Linked DNA regions of Homo sapiens: region 2 is linked to region 1. The links come from fine-mapping of genetic effects on gene expression. A gene starts in region 1. The other region holds a variant in brackets. All regions are shown on one strand. Distances are between the middles of the regions.

The links.
Region 2: its variant is fine-mapped to the expression of GLIS1 in cerebellum (GTEx, PIP above 0.99).

The regions. Positions count from the first base shown.
Region 1 is chr1:53,735,601-53,745,084 of GRCh38, reverse strand. GLIS1 (GLIS family zinc finger 1) reads left to right here and starts at 5,921. Exons shown (of 11, transcript NM_001367484.1): 1 at 5,921-5,980; 2 at 6,979-7,279. The coding sequence starts at 7,021. RefSeq lists silencers at 5,572-5,921, 5,932-6,101 and an enhancer at 5,787-6,505.
Region 2 is chr1:53,531,357-53,539,768 of GRCh38, reverse strand. The region is part of intron 4 of GLIS1 (GLIS family zinc finger 1); the gene reads left to right. Among named protein-coding and RNA genes, the nearest start is that of DMRTB1, 76 kb to the right of the region's middle. RefSeq lists an enhancer at 1-375. The variant T/C (reference allele first, on the strand shown) is at 3,619.

The DNA.
Region 1 (9,484 bases):
TTATCTTTAACTTTTTGAGGAATTGCCAAACTGTTTTCCAAAGCGACTGAATCAGACAGGCGTGGTGCCTCATACCTGTAATCCCAGCACTTTGGGAGGCCGAGGGGGTGGATCACCTGAGTTCAGGAGTTTGAAACCAGCAGGGCCAACATGGTGAAACCCCATCTCTACTAAAAAATACAAAGTGGCTGAACCATTTTACATTTCCACCAGCAATGTTTGAGGGTTCCTATTTCTCCACATCCTCACCAACACTCATTTTTTTTTATGATTCCTCATCATTCAACTTGAGACATTCCTTTTATTCAGTTATATCATCCTATTGGATGTGAAGTGATATTTTATTGTGTTTTGTTTTTATTTATTTAAAAAATTTAAAAAAATTTTTGGAGATAGGGTCTCACTATGTTGCCCAGGCTAGAGTGCAGTGGCTATTCACAGACGTGATCATCAGCACTGCAGTCTCGAACTCCTGGCCTCAAGCAATCTTCCTACCTCAGCTTCTCTAGTAGCTCATTCTGGTTATGATTTGCATTTTCCTAATGGCTAATAATGTTGAGCATCTTTTCATGTGCTTGGCCACTTGTATATCTTCTTTGAAGAAATGTCTATTCAACTCCTGTGCCTATTTTTTCGTTGGGTTGTGTTTTTGTTTTTGAGTCGTGTGAGTTCTTTGTATATTCTGGAGGCTAGACCCTTATCAGATATATGATTTGCCTATATTTTCTCCCGTTCTGTAGGTTGTCTCTTCAGTATTTTGATAATGTTCTTTGGTGTACAAAAGTTTTAAATTTTGATGAAGCCTAATTTATTTTTTATTTTATTGCTCATGTTTTTGGTATTGTATCAAAGATCCAGACTGGTGTGGTGGCTCATGACTGTAATCCCAGCACTTTGAGAGGCCAAGATGGGAAGATCACTTGAGCCCAGGATATATGACCAGCCTGGGCAATATAGTGAGACTTTGTCTCTACAAAAAATTTAAAAACTTAGCTGAGCATGGTTGCACACACCTGTTGTCCCACCTACTTGAGAGTGTGTGGTCCCACCTACTTGAGAGGCTGAGGTGGGAGGATCCCTTGAACTCAGGAGGTTGAGACTGCAGTGAGCCCAGATTGCACCATTGTGTTGTAGCAGAGTGAGACTCTGTCAAAAAAAAAAAAAAAAAAAATCCACTGCCAAATCCAAGATCAAGAAGATTTACTCCTAAAAATTATTTTTTAAAAAGGTGTGTACCTCTGTGTTTTCTTCTAAGCATTTCATGGTTTTAGCTCTTACATTTAGGTCATTGGTCCATTGTGAATTACTTTTTGAATATGATGTGAGATGGGATCCAACTTCATTCTTTGGCAGGTGGATATCCAGTTGTCCCAATACCATTTGTTGAAGAGACAATTCTTTCCTCAGTGAGTGGTCTTGGCACTCTTATTGAAAATCAGTTGGCCATAGATGTATGGGAGGCAGAGACGCTCTTGACTGTGGGAACTTTGGGAGGTCACTTAATTTTGAACTTTTATCTTCTCACCTGTAAAATAGGGATGATAACCTCTTTATCCAGAGTTGTCAGGATTAAGTGAGGTCACATATGGAGAGTGTCAGCCATGGTACATGGTAGGTTCCCCATGTTAATTCTTCCCTTGCTGCAAGACACAGAGGCAGGGTAAGCAGTGTAACATCGATCACCTCTCTTCCTTCTCCTTCCTCCTATCTCCTGGACACAGGACACCTTAGACACAGAAATGTCTACTTTTACCTCAACCATTTGCTGAGTGAATGCTTACACCCCTGAACAAAGACAGTGAGGAGAGACGTCTTGATAGGGTGGGGAAGCTCTTAGCTAGAAATGTAGGCAAGCAAATGAATTAGTGGTGAGTCTTTAATAATTCAATCAGCATTCAGTAAATATTTACCTACTTTGTGCAGGAATCTCTTCTAGGTTCTGAAGATAGAAAGGCAAAAAGCTGCCCCTGACCTCACAGAGGTCTCATTCTAGAGGGGGGAGACAGGCTGTTACACAGGCAGTTACAAAACTGTAATAAGTTCTCAGATAGAATAAAGCAGAGGATTGTGAAAGTGTGCAGGGAGAAAATAGCTATAGCCCCCTCGAGGATTCAGGGAAGGCTTGTGGGAAGGTGACACTTGGGCTGGGTATGAAATGATTCATAGGAAGAAGTAGGCAAGGTGAATAAGGGGAGAAAATATTAGCATAGGAGAAATCATATACAGAGCTATGAAGGCATGAATATATGTTCCGGATTCTAGGAGATGAAAACTATTCCAAGGTGCTTGGAACATAGGGTAGGGGTGGGAGCAGGGTAAGAAAATGGTTTGATTTTATTTAGATGGCCATTGGGAGCTATGAGATTTAAACAGGGAAGTGCCATGGTCAGATCTATATTTTTATTTATTTATTTATTTACTTATTTATTTAGAGACAGGGTCTCTCTCTGTCACTTAGCCTGGAGTATGGTGGTATGATCATAGCTCACTGCAGTCTCAAACTCCTAGACTCAAGGGATCCTCCACCTCAGCTTCTTGATTAGCTGATAGTATAGGTGCAGGCCACCATGCCTGACTATTTTTTATTTTATTTTTTGTAGAGACAAGGTCTTGCTATGCTGCCCAGTCTGGTCTCCAATTCCTGGCCTCAAGTGATCCTCCTGTCTTGGCCTCCCAAAGTACTGTGATTACAAGTGGGAGCCACTGTGCCCGGCCAGATCTATACTTTAGAGACTGATAAGGAGACCAGTGTGGAAAATCACTAATTAGGAGAAGGATGAGGATGGAGGCAAAAAGAACTTGGAAGAAATGTAGTAGTGAGGATGGAGAGGAGGAGGATTGTTAGTTAAATTTATGACAAGTCAGATATAGGAGTATGGGAGAGGAGGGGCTGAGGATGACTCAGATTTCTGAACTGGGGGAGTTGGCCATAGGGCCATTCACCCAGTTAGGGACATAGGAGTGAGGAGCAACGTCAGAGATGAAAAAATGATGTTCGATTTTGCAGATGGATCCTGATAGAGATATCCAGTAGACAGACTGTGGGAGGGCAGAAGAGAGTGTGAGTTGTAACACGGGTTAGTGTAAAAAGCAGACATTACTGTCTAGCCTGCTAAAGTGAGAAGCAGGTTACTGTGTTTCACTTTATTTTGTTTTTGACAATTAAAATATTAAGGAGTTTTATTTTAATACCAAAAATATAAAGGAAAAAAATGCAGCACATAATCCCACTGCTCAAATAACCCCTATTGAAAGACAGGGAGGGGCCGGGCACAGTGGTTCATGCCTGTAATCCCAGCACTTTGGGAGGCCAAGGTGGGCGGATCACAAGGTCAGGAGTTCGAGACCAGCCTGGCCAATATGGTGAAACCTTGTCTACTAAAAATACGAAAATTAGTCAGGCATGGTGGTGCGCGCCTGTAGTCCCAGCTGCTCTGGAGGCTAAGGCAGAAGAATCACTTGAGTCTGGGAGGCAGAGGTTGCCGTGAGCTGGGATTGTGCCACTGGACTCCAGCCTGGGCAGACAGAGGAGTGAGACTCTGTCTCAAAAAAGAAAAAGAAAACAAAAAAAAAAAAAAAAGAGAGAGAGAGGGAGGATAATATATACTTAGAAAACACAAATCAGTTCAGACAAGTATAAAAATGAAAAGTGCAGGCCTTCCCTCAGTCCTCCATTCCCTTAACCACTGTTAACAGTTTCTTGTGTTTCCTTTGTGGAAAAAAAAAAAAGCATATACCTACTAGATTCTGAGTATCTCCAAAGGGGTTCTGCCATTTACAGTGTTTAAGAGGTCTGTTTTATTGAGCAGATTAAACTTCTCATCACTTTGCCAGCCTTCACAAACCCACCTATTTTGGTCAGGTGGACCTGTGAGCTCACTGAGGGGAAGGGGAGGGGGCGGGTTCTGTGTTTCTGTGTCCCTAGCTCAGGTATAGGGGCTGGCCCAGGGTAAGTGCTCAAAAGAATAATGGAAAGAGCTGTTTCTTCATCTGGAAATTTGGAGGGCCTTTGCTTTCAGGTCCAGTTGGTTAAATGACTCATTCAGCAAACGTTTTCAGAGTCCCGACTAAATGTGCAGCGCAGTGCTTGTTGTGTGTGTGTGTGTTTTGCAGCGGGGCGGCGGGGGGGGGCATTGTGGGGGGTGGAGGGAGGGCAGAGGACTTGGATCCTGGCCTTACTGAAGAGAAGAGCAGAACTAGAAAGGCCAGAGATCTTCCAACTTCATGCCTTTGGAGGGGGGAAGCTGAGGTCCAGAGTGAGGTTACCATTCGTCTAGAGCCACATGGCTTGTTGGCAGCAGAACCAGCTGTGACTCCACAAGAGTATGTGGTGGTGGGGGGTGCAGGCACTGAGTGAGGCGCAACCCTTGGCCTGTGTGTTATGGGCATGGTTGATTTACACCCTCTCCCTGTGAGCAGCAGAGTGGTTGGTACTGAAGGAACAGCATTGCCAGGAGTCAGGAAGCCTGGATCCCGGGGCTCTGCCACCCTCCACCACATTGACACAGGCCAGTCACGTCCTTTCTCCTCTGAATGGAGGGTGGGTCTAACTAAAACCTCAAAGTCTTTCTTACTATTATTACTCTAATTGTTAGATACTATTTTAAACAAATTATAGGAAATCCAATTTTATGATTTTGAAATTCTAAAATCCTGGTTTTCCAGGATTCTGAGGATGCTGCTTGGGGTCGGTTGTTCTGTGCAGAGTCCTGTGCTATGAACTTGACATGTTGTGTAGTCCAGAAGGGCTCCATATACATTTTCCAGTTTGAGACCAAGGTCAAAGAGACCAGACTTCAAAGGAGTTCGAAACCAGTCAGGCCCCTTGGAGCCAGCCCAGACCACCATCAAACAGTGCACAGGAGGCGCCTAGGTGAAATGCAGAAACCATTTCAGGGCTTGGCTGGATCCTTCGGTAGGCATGGCAGGTAGACCAGGCCTAGGCAAACACTGCCATTTTACACGGGAGGACTCAGGCTCAGAGCGGGGAACTGAGCCATTGCCTGCAGGCTCTGTGAAGCCTTACTGTTCTTTGTCCCGTGCTCTTCCTACACGTTGGGCAGGGCCCCCTGAGACACTGCGTGCTGTCTGTGGGGGAATCCCAGAAGGCAGGACAACAGAGTAGACCCCTAGAGTGGGTCTCAATCCCCAGATCTGTAAGGATCTCCTGGGAGCTCGCTAAAAGCCTAAGTGCTGGGGGCCTATTCCCCAAGACTCAATTGGAATATTTCCTAGTTGGGATCAGGCACCATTTTTTTATCTTTAACTTCAGAGTTTGAGACCTTTTACCCTGGACTCTTTCCGGCGGAAAACACAAAAACAAACGTAAGAAAGTGGGCTGAGAGGCCTGGGTTTGGGTCCCAAATTTGCTGCCCACTAGCTGTGAAATCTCTGCAAATTCTCCAGTGAGAGGGTTGGATTCTGCAAGAAAACTTTTCAAGCACTTTCGCATCTGTCCGCTTCGCGTTAGCAGACAGCGTCGTTCCCATCTGACGGAGGGGAAAACCGACCGGGAGAAGGGAGGATCCTGCCCGGGGCTAGTGGAGAGGCGGGCAGGGAGCCGGGTTCAGCCCGGCACTCCTCACGCCCAGCGCACTCCGCCGACCCCCGAGCCCAGCCTCTCTCGCCGCGGCGCCGCCCCGCCGTCCTGCCCGGCTCGGCCGTCTGAGAACAGCGGGCAGCGCGGGGATCCAGCCGGCCGCCGCCTGTCAAACCCTCTGCTCAGCCCCGCGTCGGGCCCCGCCCAGACCCCCAGGGGGGGATGCCCCGCCCTCGCGCCGCGATTGGCCTGAGCCGGGCGGCCGCGGCCAGCCAGTGGCTGGAGCGGCTGTTGGGCAGACGCGGGCCCGCCCCCGTCCCCCGGGGAACCGCCCCGCAGGACGCGGCGGCGGCGGCGGCGGCTGCGGCGGCTGCGGGGGCTGCTGCGCCAGTGGAGGCGCGCCGAGCCGGGCGCCCAGCGATCTGCAGCTGCCGCTGCGAGGTGAGAGGGGGCGCGGCCCGCGGCCGAGGGAGGGGCGTGTGCGGGGCCCGAGATCCGAGGCTGGCGTCCCGGCGACGCTCGAACCCCGGCAGCTTGGGGATGGCGCAGGGAGCGCGGAGGGGAACGGAGAGTTTGGGGGCCCCTGATGGAAGGGCTGAGGGAGGCTCTGTCGCGGCCCCCATCGCACGCGCGTGTGGCGAGAGCGTGGGACTGTGTGGTTGTGCGCTGCTGAGCGTCTGACCAGCGGCAGTGTGGGTGGCGTGTCCGTCCCCGGGCGTGCCTCGGCGGGTGTGCGGGTGTGTGGCGGCGGCCGCGTGGGCATTGCCCACTGTGCCGGTTTGCGCGCGCGACGGGCTCGATTCCTCCGCTGCGCATAGGAATGTGGGTGTCCCGGCTGCGCGTGATGGGTTCGCGTCGCAGGATTCAGCGCCCAGCTTGGGACTCCTGTTTTCCAGGTTCGGGTGGTCGCGGGTGAGTCTCTGGGGGTTTCCCTCGGGCCTTTGGGTTCGGGTCCCCAGCTTCTGCGCGCAGCTCGGCCCCGGAGAGTCGACGAAGCGCGCAGCCCGTGACCTACCCGGAGCCGTCTCCGGGGCTTCGCCCGAGCCCTGCTCTGGGAATCCTCGTTGCCGCCGGCTCCGTGTTCCACTGGGGGACGCGGAACAGGCGCCTTACCCGCTCCAGGCCTCAGTTTCACCATTCGTGCAAAGGAGGCTGGTTTCGGTGGAGGAGGATTTGGGTGGGACTTCGCGGTAATGCGCCGCGGCGCGGGGGCCTGGGGTCCTCCCCACACCAGGGAAGGGCGAACCGCTCCTGAGCGAGGGGGCTTTTGCGTGGAATCAGGTGGGTTTGACCTCTGATTGGGCTAGGTGTCGTGGTGCTAACCTATGTTAAAGACGCGCAATCCACCGAAGGGGCAGTGACCTGCTCAAACTCGGCCCCGGGACAATACGGGGGCCGCTTTCCGCATTCTAACTGGCTGTGCTGTCTCCCCTCCCCAGGAGCCCGGCGCGACCCCCAGCCGTGCGCCCCGCCCCGGCGCCATGCATTGCGAGGTGGCTGAGGCACACTCGGACAAGAGGCCTAAGGAGGCCCCTGGTGCGCCCGGCCCCGACCGCGGCCCCGCCAGCCTCGGCGCGCACATGGCCTTCAGGGTCACCGTGAGTGGCGGCGGCTGCGGGGACAGGGGCCCGCGGGACCTGCTAGCCCGGCCGCCTGCGCCGCCACCGCGCGCCCACGACCTCCTCCGGCCCCGCAGTCCCCGAGACTACGGTCCATCCAAGGCCGCCGCCGCCGGGAAGGGTGAGTTCGGCCCTGCCAACGTGCCTGGCGGCTCCTGTGGAGATTCGGGCTGCCCGGCGTCGCCACCGCGTGCTCGGGAGAGCTTGGTGGAACTTTCTTCGGAGTTCCTCAGTTTCTCTCTTATTGTTTGGGACTAGCTTGTCAGTGTGAAAGTATGCCTGCTTTGCGAAGCATCTAATTTAAATTCAATTAGCCCCGTTTGGGGAAATGTGTTTATAGAAAGCTCTCAGCTTACATAATTTTGCTTCTGTGTGTTTCTGATAAAGCTTGCATAGAAACTTGTCAAAATTTTATTATACATGAGGGCGAATAGCAACGCATATATTGGTATCTGTTTCTGAGCAGCTCAAGGCATAGTTTGAAGTATTTCAATCTCCTCAGCTGACAAAACCCAGAGGCCTTTAGCAAGACCCCTCTCCTTTTGGGACCTCAGTTTCCCCATCTGTCAAGTGAGGAATTAATTAAACCAGATGATTTCTGGATTCCTGATGGAAAATTTTCTGCATCAGCAATCCAGCCTAGTCACGTCCTAACTTAAACATGGCTTTTCTGTACTTGGTGCTTCGGCAGCCTAGTCTTGGGTCACAAGCTCCTTGGCAAGTCCCTTCGTCCCCCAGTGAAGCTGGCCACGGGAAGGTGGGGGTCCCAGTATGGCTTATGGGCTCAAAGTCGGAGATGGTGCTGGGATTTTCAGGAACATGCTCTTCTCATCACAGTTAATTATTATTGAGTCATTATTTATGAGTTTCGTGCTGACAGATAATTAACCAGGAATTGGAGAAATTGTTAAGATGCTGTGTCCTCGTCCTCCCCCCTTTTTTTTTCCCTTAGGGGAAACCAAGGCTTTGGGGTTTGACTATATCTGCATTTGGAACCTCTTGGTTCTCATTCCAGATGATTCTCAAGGAAGACAAAAACAGTTTGGGTTTTACGGTTATAGGCATCACTTCCTAGCATCAGCCTCACAACTCGGAAGGGGTAGGCAGCCTACTTTTAGAGTTGAGAGCTCCTTGTGGATCAAAAACACCCAACTCCCTGGTTCAGGGATTAGTAAAATGAAATAAACATAAGTAGTTTTTTTCTTTTTTGAAGAAAACACTTGACTTTGTAAGAGAGAACTACTTCTCATCTCCTTGTTTTAGATGCCAGCCTCTTTTTCAAGGGATAGAGATAATATTTTAGAAGGACAGATACAGTGGGGAGGGGCGGGAAATGCCTGCTGAGTGTTATTGCTGGAATACACACATATGAGGTCTCTTTTACCAGAGAGGAGCGCTGCGCAGCGAGACATGAGTAATGTTTGCTGCCGGGAGCTCCCTGGCTTGCCCCGCTCCATACACAATCCTCCCTTAAATAGATACCCTCCTGCAACGTTCTGTGTTTAAAAAAATCATGGCTGTCCTCTGAAGATCGAGTTCTCTGCAGACCTAGCAAACAGCTCTCCCGAACATAATCTTTGTTCCACGCTATGGTGAGACCTTTCACCTGGGGGCTTTGTGTACGATCTTCCTACTTCCATTCCCCCTAACCCCAGTTATTTTTACGCACGCCCCCAAACATGTCCAAAATAAAAGATCTTTAAGTCAGGATTCCATTTGGAAAGGGCAGAGGAGAATAAAGGGATGGGAGGAAGAGCCTCTTTCTTTGTACCTTAAGCTGGTCTCTCTGGTGAAGCTTTTTTCCAAGAGGTTTCACAACTTTTCTTCATAGCCTCCCAGTGAGGCTGTTGTGGTGGGATGTATCCCACTCATTTGAAGGGTGAGGAAACTGAGGCCTGAAGGTGGGAAAGTGTTTGGTATGTGTAGGGCAGTGGTTAGGGAAGCCACAGCTCTGGCCTAACCTGGCCTAGGGAGAAAGGGAAGGCTCAGGGTCCTGGGCTTGGAGAGGTTTCCCTGCTGGCCTCTGTGTTGCTATAGGCAAGCTTTTCCTCACAGTGCAGTCACCAAGTGGCCCGAGACAAACCCAGCTTTCCCCCAGTTCTTCAGCGTCCTTAAAAATGCTGCGAGGAAACGGCACCTTCTTACTGCCCCTACTCCCACCGAAATAGTCCCAGACCATGTAACCCTTTGAATATTTGGTGTCTAGCTCCAAGTTCTCAGGCTTATTGGAAACAGACAGAAATACCAATTGAAAAATATGTATTGACTGTGCTGGGAATTGTGAGACCCCACCATCTATGATCTGTGGCACTTGGGGGAATCGATT
Region 2 (8,412 bases), 200 kb after region 1:
TCCAGGTGGCCAGTTTCCACGTGTGCTGTGCTATGCGTGGGGCAGTGTGTCGGTGTGGCTGGTGGGTGGGGGTTAGTGTGTTTGTGAATGTGGCAGGTCTGGGGCTTGGACGTCTTTGGGTATATGTGTGAACATGTGTGTCCTGGCCTGTGTGTTTTTGTGATATGAGTCATGGGGTGTAAACACAGTTTATGTGTATGATGTGTAGTGTGTGTGGGGGGGTGTATACCGTGTGGTATGTGTGTGTGTGGTGTGGTGTGTGTATGTTGGGGGTGTGGTACGTGTGTGTGGGAGGTATGATGTGTATGTATTGGGGGTGTGCTGTGATGTGTGGTATGGTGTGTGTGTGGGGTGTGCATTCATGTGCTGTGGAGTGTGTGTGTGGTATGATATGTGTGGGTGTGTTATGTGGTATATATGTGGGGATATGGTATGTGTGGGTGAATTGGGGTGTGTGTGTTTAGGTGTAGTGTGTGTGTGTGTGTGTGAGGGAGTTTCTGGGTCTTGGTGTGTGTGTGTGTGTGAATCCATGTGTGTGTGTTGGTGTGTGTTGGGGCTGTCTCCGACGTGTGGCTTGGTTGGAGGGAGAGGTGTTCACATCAGAGTGTGTGAGTGTCCACGTTTCTGGGCCTGTGGCTGGTGGCTTGGTGTACATGTGTCAGCCATTCTATGCTGTGTGCTCTCTGCGGAGCCCTGGCCCCTGGCAGAGCCTCTTTCCTCATTCCAGACGATGTCTAGCCACAGCTCTGCACTGGGAGAGCCCCTGGATCCCACCTGTCCACTTGGGCCCAAGAGAAGCTGACTCAGCCCCTCCTGCACCTCCTACTTTCGGGGGTTCCACATGCCCTGGAAGGGTGACTCTCTTGATCCTTGCTGGCCGGCCACCTTTCCAGGAGATGCCTCAACTGCACTGCTGGGGACAGGAACCCATTTCTTGCCCAGACAGGAACTTTTGCCAGAGAAGAGCCCAGCCCAGAGCTGTCAGTGTGTTCCTGGTGAGGAAGGGTCAGGGTGTCTGCAGCCCCCACCCCCTCAGCCTTGAGATCCTCCTCCCAAGGACAGGCCCACCCGCATGGGCTCCCAGAGGAGGTGTATGGTCCCTCTGTCCTGTTCTCCCTTGCCTCACTGTGTGCCCCCAGCCCTCCCTGGCCTGCCAGCTGCTTATGAAGGCCCAGTGAGCAGATGGTCTTGCCTCTCATGGCAGTGCTCGATCATGGCTACCTGGGACCAGAGTGTGCCCAGGGCACAGACCTCGGCACTGGAGGTGAACCCAGGCTCCATCCCATGAGTGAGCGCTGGGACTCTGGCACTTCACCTAAACTCAGTTTCCACCTCTGTAACAATAGGGGTTGCAGGATTAGTGAGATGGTGTTTAGGGAGAGCTTGGCCCAGTCCTAGGCACATGGTCAATGTGATAGCTGCTGTTCTGCTCAGTCCCCGCACATGCCCCACTTTCCATTCATGTATGCAGGTGGCACTGCATCCCCAAACACCAGACCCTCGAGAGCCTCACGGTCCAAATCAAAGAGCCCGGGTCAGTGCCCTCCAGCCTCACCCCCAGGACCCTCCTCCCGTCTGTCCGTTCCATTCTTGCCTCAACCTCCCCACAGAGGACTGGCGAAGCCCCAAACTCTGAGGAGACCCTCAAGGAGCCCCACGGGGGAGCACAGGACAGTAACCTCAGGCCAGCCAGCGGCCCCTCCCAGAGTGCAGGAGCGAGGAGCGGCCCTCAGTGCCCAGCTTGCTGGCCTTTAAAGCTGGCCAAACGCAGGATTATTTGACATGTTGGAGAAGGAGCTGGCATTGCATTTCTCCCATCCACATCATTGTTGTAAAGTAACTTAAAAGTTCGTACAAAAATGAGAAGTTGATCCCTGAATGGCCTGCCAGACTTTTGTAACCCAATATATTTTACCCTTAAACCAGAAATGTGTTTATTTAGAAGCAAGTCACTGGCAAATGCTAAAACTGAAGGCATTTCCTCCCCTGCCCCCGTGCCATGCCCTGTTCCCCCAAACCTCCTCTTCACTCTGTGTCCAGATTCTTAGTTAGAGCATGAGAAACTGAACCCTGCCTCCTTTTTGGGCCATGCCAGCCGCAGGCAGGAAACTTGACATTCATTAGGCACCAGCTATGTGCCAGTTCCTACACTGGGCATATTCTTTTATTTACTTCTACCAGCCGTTTGTGGTGGCCCCATTTTAGAGAAGAGAAAAACGAGGACAGAAATGAGGCGTGACTAGCCCAGGTTCAGGCTCCCGGTGGTGGATCCCCAGCACAAACCTCTGTTTGCGTGACTTGATTTGCAGCACTTTGGTTTGCGGCATGGTGTCACCAACTCACATGTGAAACAGGGCCCTTGGTTCTTCCCCAGGAGCCAGAGGGAGAGAAGAGCCATCACCTAGTGCCAGCGGCACGCCAGGCACTGTGCTGGGGCTCCCCTGCATGCTCTTAGCCCGTCCACAGATGCATAAAAGGCTCTGAGTGTGGCTTGCTGAGGAAGGTGGACCCACCCTGCAACTTGAACGTCTGAGCCAGCCCCCAGCGGATCTTGGGCTTCAGCCCTCCCCCTCCCCAAGCCAGAGCTTGAGGGGTCCCTGGGCTTGGCCCAGAGGCGAGGATGCCACCCCCTGCCTGGCTCCTGGGATGGCTCCCCTCTGTCTTTCATCTCCTGCCCTCTGCTCTGTGAGCGGCACGCAGCAGTAATGGATTGCAGTGGACATTTTTCAATTAGGTTCTGATTTTCCCCTGCCTGTCACTATAAAACTCCAGATGGTCTGGGGCTTCACGGTTCCCGGGGTATTTTCCCCGTTTTTTTAATCTTCTGCTGTAACACACCCCACATGTGGGAATTGGGCCTTTCAAGGCTGTTCTGTGGATCAGCTGGTACTTTCTTCTCCACTGTGCCACCTGGTTTTCCTTTCTGCATGGAGGCATCCACTGTGGGCATCCTCCCTTCCCAGCGTCAGCTCTGGGGCTGGGCCCAGGCCTGGCCTTGCCCCAGGAATGGAACCTGTGACGCCTGGTTTGAAATGACAGTACTAGCTCCTGAGAGAGAACTTGTCTTTTGGTGCTTTAGGTAGGAGTCCCTGAGGCAGTGGCCAGAGTGGTTAGGGACACATATAGACTCATCAGCCAGACCCAAGGTCAGATTCCTGCTCCGTCACTGACTGGCTGTGTGACCTGGAGCCAGTGACATCACCCTTCTGAGCCTCAGTTTCTTATTCTGCAGAGTGGGCTGGGAAGTAGCTTCCTCAGCGGGGAACGTTGTCTGAATTAAATGAAACACACACAGCACTTGGCCTACGGTAGGTGTCAGAGAAAGTGTCACCCAGTCACTACTGTCATTCTGAATTCACCCCAACTTCATCTTCAAATATGTTTTACTGTTTGTGTATTTTGGGGTAAATAAGAAAAACCTAACCACCTATTCTTACATTTTTCAAGATTGTTATACATGCCTGCTTTTCCTTCTCCCCATCCTGGGTACCCCCTGCCCTCAGTATCACCTTCTCTGTTCCCATGGTGTGGGAGCCCTTCCTTCTAGCCAGATCAGTCTGTTGTGTTTTTGGTTATTTGAGCCAGTGTGTCTCAAATCCACCCTCGACAGAAGGTGCC[T/C]GTATCATTCTCTGCATGGACAGATGGCGTCAGAGCGCTGATGCCTCTGCACACAGTGGTTCACAGAGCCCCCACAGTGTGCCCCTTCTTACATCTGAGGTATCTGGTCTCTGACAAGTGAAATGAGCTCACCCTGATTCATCGGGTCGGGAAGCGTGGAGGCCAGCTTTGCACCCAGGCTGATCTGAAGCTGGAATGCATTGGTGTGGGTACGGGGGTTGGAGGGTACAGATGCCACCAAGCCAGCACCAAGGGACCAGATCATGCTGGCCAGAATGCCAGGGTGAGGATCTGTACATGTTGAGGCACTGGGGAACCATGCAGGGTTTGAGCAGGGAGGGACACAGAGCTATGGGCTTAAGTCTTCTTTTCAGATAGCTCGTGGAAATGGGTTGGGAAAGGCAGGAGGGAGGCAGGATGGCACCTGTGCAGTCACCCAGGTAAGTGATGCTGGGGTGTGGATTAGGGCAGTGGGTGGATAAGAAGAGAAGGGGGCAGACCTGGAAGGTGATTACAAGGTGGCATTTCCTGGGCTGGTGACTAGTTGGATGCAGGGCCCAGAGAGGAGGGAACATGTTCCTGGCTCAAGCATCCAGGTAGAAGGTGGGAGGTCAGGGGCCCCATACCCACCCAGCCATCCACCATGAGGGACTGAGAGGCCCCAAGGTGGGCTGGCCATGTGCCAGCAACTCAGGGCCATATGTGCTTGAGGCTTAGGGGCCCATGTCGCACCCTCCTGCACCGGTCCAGCCCAGTGCCTGGACTCACGGTAGGTGCTTAGTAAAGGTAGATGGAAGAAACAGTGACAGCTCAGACCCAGGGCATCAGCCCTGCGTGACCTGGGGTGGTCCAGCCAGCAGAAGTCGCACCAGAGTCCCTCAAGTGAAGAGCCTGTGCCACATCAGTCCTTGCATGGAGTGGCTTCTGTGAAGTCTTTAGAATCAAAAATCCCCAAATTTGCCTGCTGCAGAAGGAACCACTACCCCATGTGTTTGAATGAAGGGAGCCCCCAAAACTCCCATTTCTACTTTCACCTCTCCTCTCCCTGCTTCCCTTCCTTCTCTGCTCAATAGATCCTTAGCTGTTTCCAGAACATATCCCACCTCTTCCAGCCTCCCTGCTTTTGTTCATGCTTTGCCCTCTCCCTGGAATGCTTTTCCTGGCTCTGTGTTTCTAGCCCCTGCCTGGGTGTCAGGGCTGAGCTCCTCTGTGAAGGCTTTTGTAGCTCCCCAGCCTCTGCCAGCCAGAAGCCCCCGGGTCAGCCCCTTCCTAGGGCTCTGAACAAGTTCCAGTGTGTTTGGAGCTATGGGTCTTTGACGCCCTTGGGTCTCAGCTCAGAGCACACTGCCAGGCACACAGAGGGGCAGCTGAGTGAGGCAGGAGGATAAGAACCTGTGTGCTCAAAGAGGAGAGGATGAGTGAGTGACTCGCAGAAGTGCGTGAGTGGAAGGATGGGGGGTGCACAGTAGCAGGGATGGGGTGGGTGGTCAGGTGGGGGTGGAGGGATGGGGTGCACAGCTGGCTTTCAGGCCACAGGGCTTACCTTGTGTTGCAGGCACTTCTTTCTCAGGAGAGATGGCAGTTCTGCCTATGGCATAGCTCAGGCTCAGTGCCCCTGGCACAGGGGGAACAATCTCCCTCTCTGAACCCCCCACATAGAGGCACTCAGCCCTTGCAGTGGGGGTCCAGGGTCTGCTCTGCCAGCCTGTACCCTTGGACACTGGCAGCAGGAAGCAGGTGTCTGTCCAGGACAAATGTACCATAGAGCCTGAGGCGACCGGGATGTCAGGAAGGCCCCGCCCCAGTGGCACTCCCTGTGGTGCAGGCCCCATGGAATCATTACGATGCCCTCGGGTCGTGGTGCCATTACCTGAAGGTAAGTCCTCCCTCCACCTGAGAAACCAAGGTCGAAGCCAGGGACGTGCTAGATGGCTGCATTTCTGGTCTCACAAGCCCCATGCATCCATTCTGCAGCATCTGTGCCCCCACAACCCAATGGTGGGGGTTCCCTCCCTGCAGCCCTCCCAGCCCTACACAGCCTATGGATGGGGGCCCTTCAAGCCACACCCACCCCAAAGGCTACCTCGCACTCATTGGAGGCTGCTCCCGGGACCCAGAGAGCTCCCCCTGGGCTGGGTCTACACCAGGGTCCGTGTGTGTAACCCCTGTGCTGGCTGCACCCTGAGCATCAGCTCCCCATCTGTCAGTGGAGACAGTAATACTTGCCTACTGGGCAGTGAAGAAGATAAGGTGCCACATTTGTGACAGCACCAGGCCCAGCAGAACCAAGCACACAATAGGTGCTGAACTGATGGTCGCTCTCATCCCTCTTTCTGTGCCTCTGTTGTCCCCATCTGTGCAGTTGTTGACTAGGAAGGACCACAGGGACCTTGGCAGCCAGCTGCAGGCAGATCCCATAGGCCCTCAAGGCCCCTGGCGTGTCTGGGATGCTGGTCCTGATGGGGCATGACTCTGGCTCTGCCAGGGGTGCCTGCAGCATCCTCATCCCAGACCAGTCCTGATGGGGCAGTGCCCCTTCGTCTGCTGGTACCTCTGTTTCCACCTGGAGGGACGGGCCACTCTCATCAGGGCATCCCAGCCAGCTGCTCATTATACCCCAGCCTGTGGCTCAGCTCTGGAAAGTTCCAGGGGGCGGGGAGCAGAACAAGGCTGGGCCAACATACATGGGCACAGCACAGGCATCAGGGCACACGCACTTATCGGGGTACCTTTCTGCACACTGGGGTAAGGGGGTGTACTCACAGGGGTGCGTGGACTGCATGCCCAGCAACCCCCATATCATGCTTCTGTCCCACCCTTTGCCCCATGATTGAGATGCCAGCCCTGCTCTCAAGGAACTCTCAAACTCTCAGCCTGGAGGCATGGGGAGAAGGCCATGGCTGTGCAGGGAAAACCTACCCCACAAGCTCATGGGTGTCACAGAGGATGGGGTGGGGAAGTTTGAGGCAGGCTTCTGAGAGAGAGTGCTTAAGCAACAGGAGTAGATGTTTGCTAAAAGAGCAAATAAAGGAAAGGCATTCCAGGCCTAGGGAACAACTGAAGTAAAGGCCTGAGGGCATGGAAATTCCTAACAGAATTCAGGACTGTTCAGACACAGTCTCACTCCTGCAGATCACGCGTGGAGCGTCTGCATGGGAGAGGCAGTTGGGTCCATGTTGGAAGACCATGAACACCAAGCTGCAGATCCTGTGTTTGAAAAACGTATGAATTAGATGGTCAGAGAGTTGGAAGGGAAGGAGTCCCAGGAGGGGGACAGTCCGAATAGAGACAGAGCAACTGTGCTGAGCAGAGGGTTGGCCAAGGCAGGAATACACAGACCTCGGGGAGAAGATGATGTATCGATCATGGTCCACCTTCCAGCACTCTCCCACAGTCAGGAAAATGACGAAGCCTGGAGGAGTTATTGTCCTCTGCTGTAGATACCTCCCTGCCCTGCATGGGCCAGAGGGGAACAAAGGATGCTGAGAGGAAGCCCCACTCTCCAGCCCGGGCTCCCCCATCTCACGTTGGGGTGAACTTGGCACAAGGCCATTGCAGGCGAGCAAGGGAGGTGGCTTGCAGCCTATTTACTGCCCAAACAGGATTTCCTCCTGGTTTGGATGCATGAAAAAGGCACAACATCTGGAAGTAGGAAGCAGAACAGCTTCTAAAACCCAGCTGTGGGTGGCTCGCCTTGGACCCGCCCCAGCAGAGCACGGCCCCAAGTTGTGACTGGGCTTCCAGGGGACAGGCGCAGAGGGAGCTGTCCCGGAACCATCATTGTCTCTCGTGTCTCTTGTGTCTCTCATATCTGTCTGAGCAGCTCTGCCCTGGCCTGTGCTCCATCTGCCACCTCTGCCCTGGATGGGGCGTTGGTGACCCTCCTCTGGAACTGCTACAATTGCCATCTTCCTGTCTCCTCCCCCGGTCCCCACTTGTCACCAGCAGCCAGAGAGGTCTTCCTAGGGCACATATCTGAGCCTGTCCTTTCCCTTCTTTAGGAGAAGTGTCTCCACTTTCCCCAAGGTGGAGTCCAGGCTCACTGGCCCAGCATTTGAGTCCCCGCTATCTGGCCTTTGAGCTCCCTGCAGACTCCTTGCCCAGTAGAGCCCAGCCCACCCCCAGCGTAATGAACCCCACATCAACCACTCAGGGGCCTTCACAGGGAATCTGTGCCTTTTTCATGCTTTGGTGCCTGCCCTTCCTTGGCCTTCAGTGTGCGTCACCCCACTATCTTCTTTGGATCTGTTGGTTGCAGTTCAGGGCTCGGGCAGGGCCAGAGACAGAATGAGGTGAATGCATCAGTGTTGGGGGAATTGCCTGCCTGTGTCTCCACACTGCTACATGTCTGTCTAAGCTCGCTACAGTCATCAAGCCCGTGGAAGCAGCTCGCGGCCCACAGGCTGCCTCAGGCATCTCCTCTGTGTGGCCACAGCCCCTGTGTCTCCCTCTGTGACATCTCAACCACGTCGCTTTATGGTGGTGTGCGTGTGTGCATCTCCCACATGGGCTCTCTACACCTAGAGGGCAGGACCCATGTCTGAGTTCTCTCTGCAGCTTGGCACTCACCGCAGACTGGAGCCAGTCTGTCCCAGTGAACAGCCTCGCACCAGAAATTACTCAATGTGCTGAACAGCCTTGAGCCAAGGCCATGAAAATCAGCCAGGTGGATCACAGGGTCTGAAATGAGCCCACAGTCCTCTCCAGGCACCCAACCAGCTCCTCCCCCTACTCCCCGCAGGTGAGCCCCAGAGAAAGGATGTGAAGAGCAGGCTTTGGGAGCGCCAGTCCTCG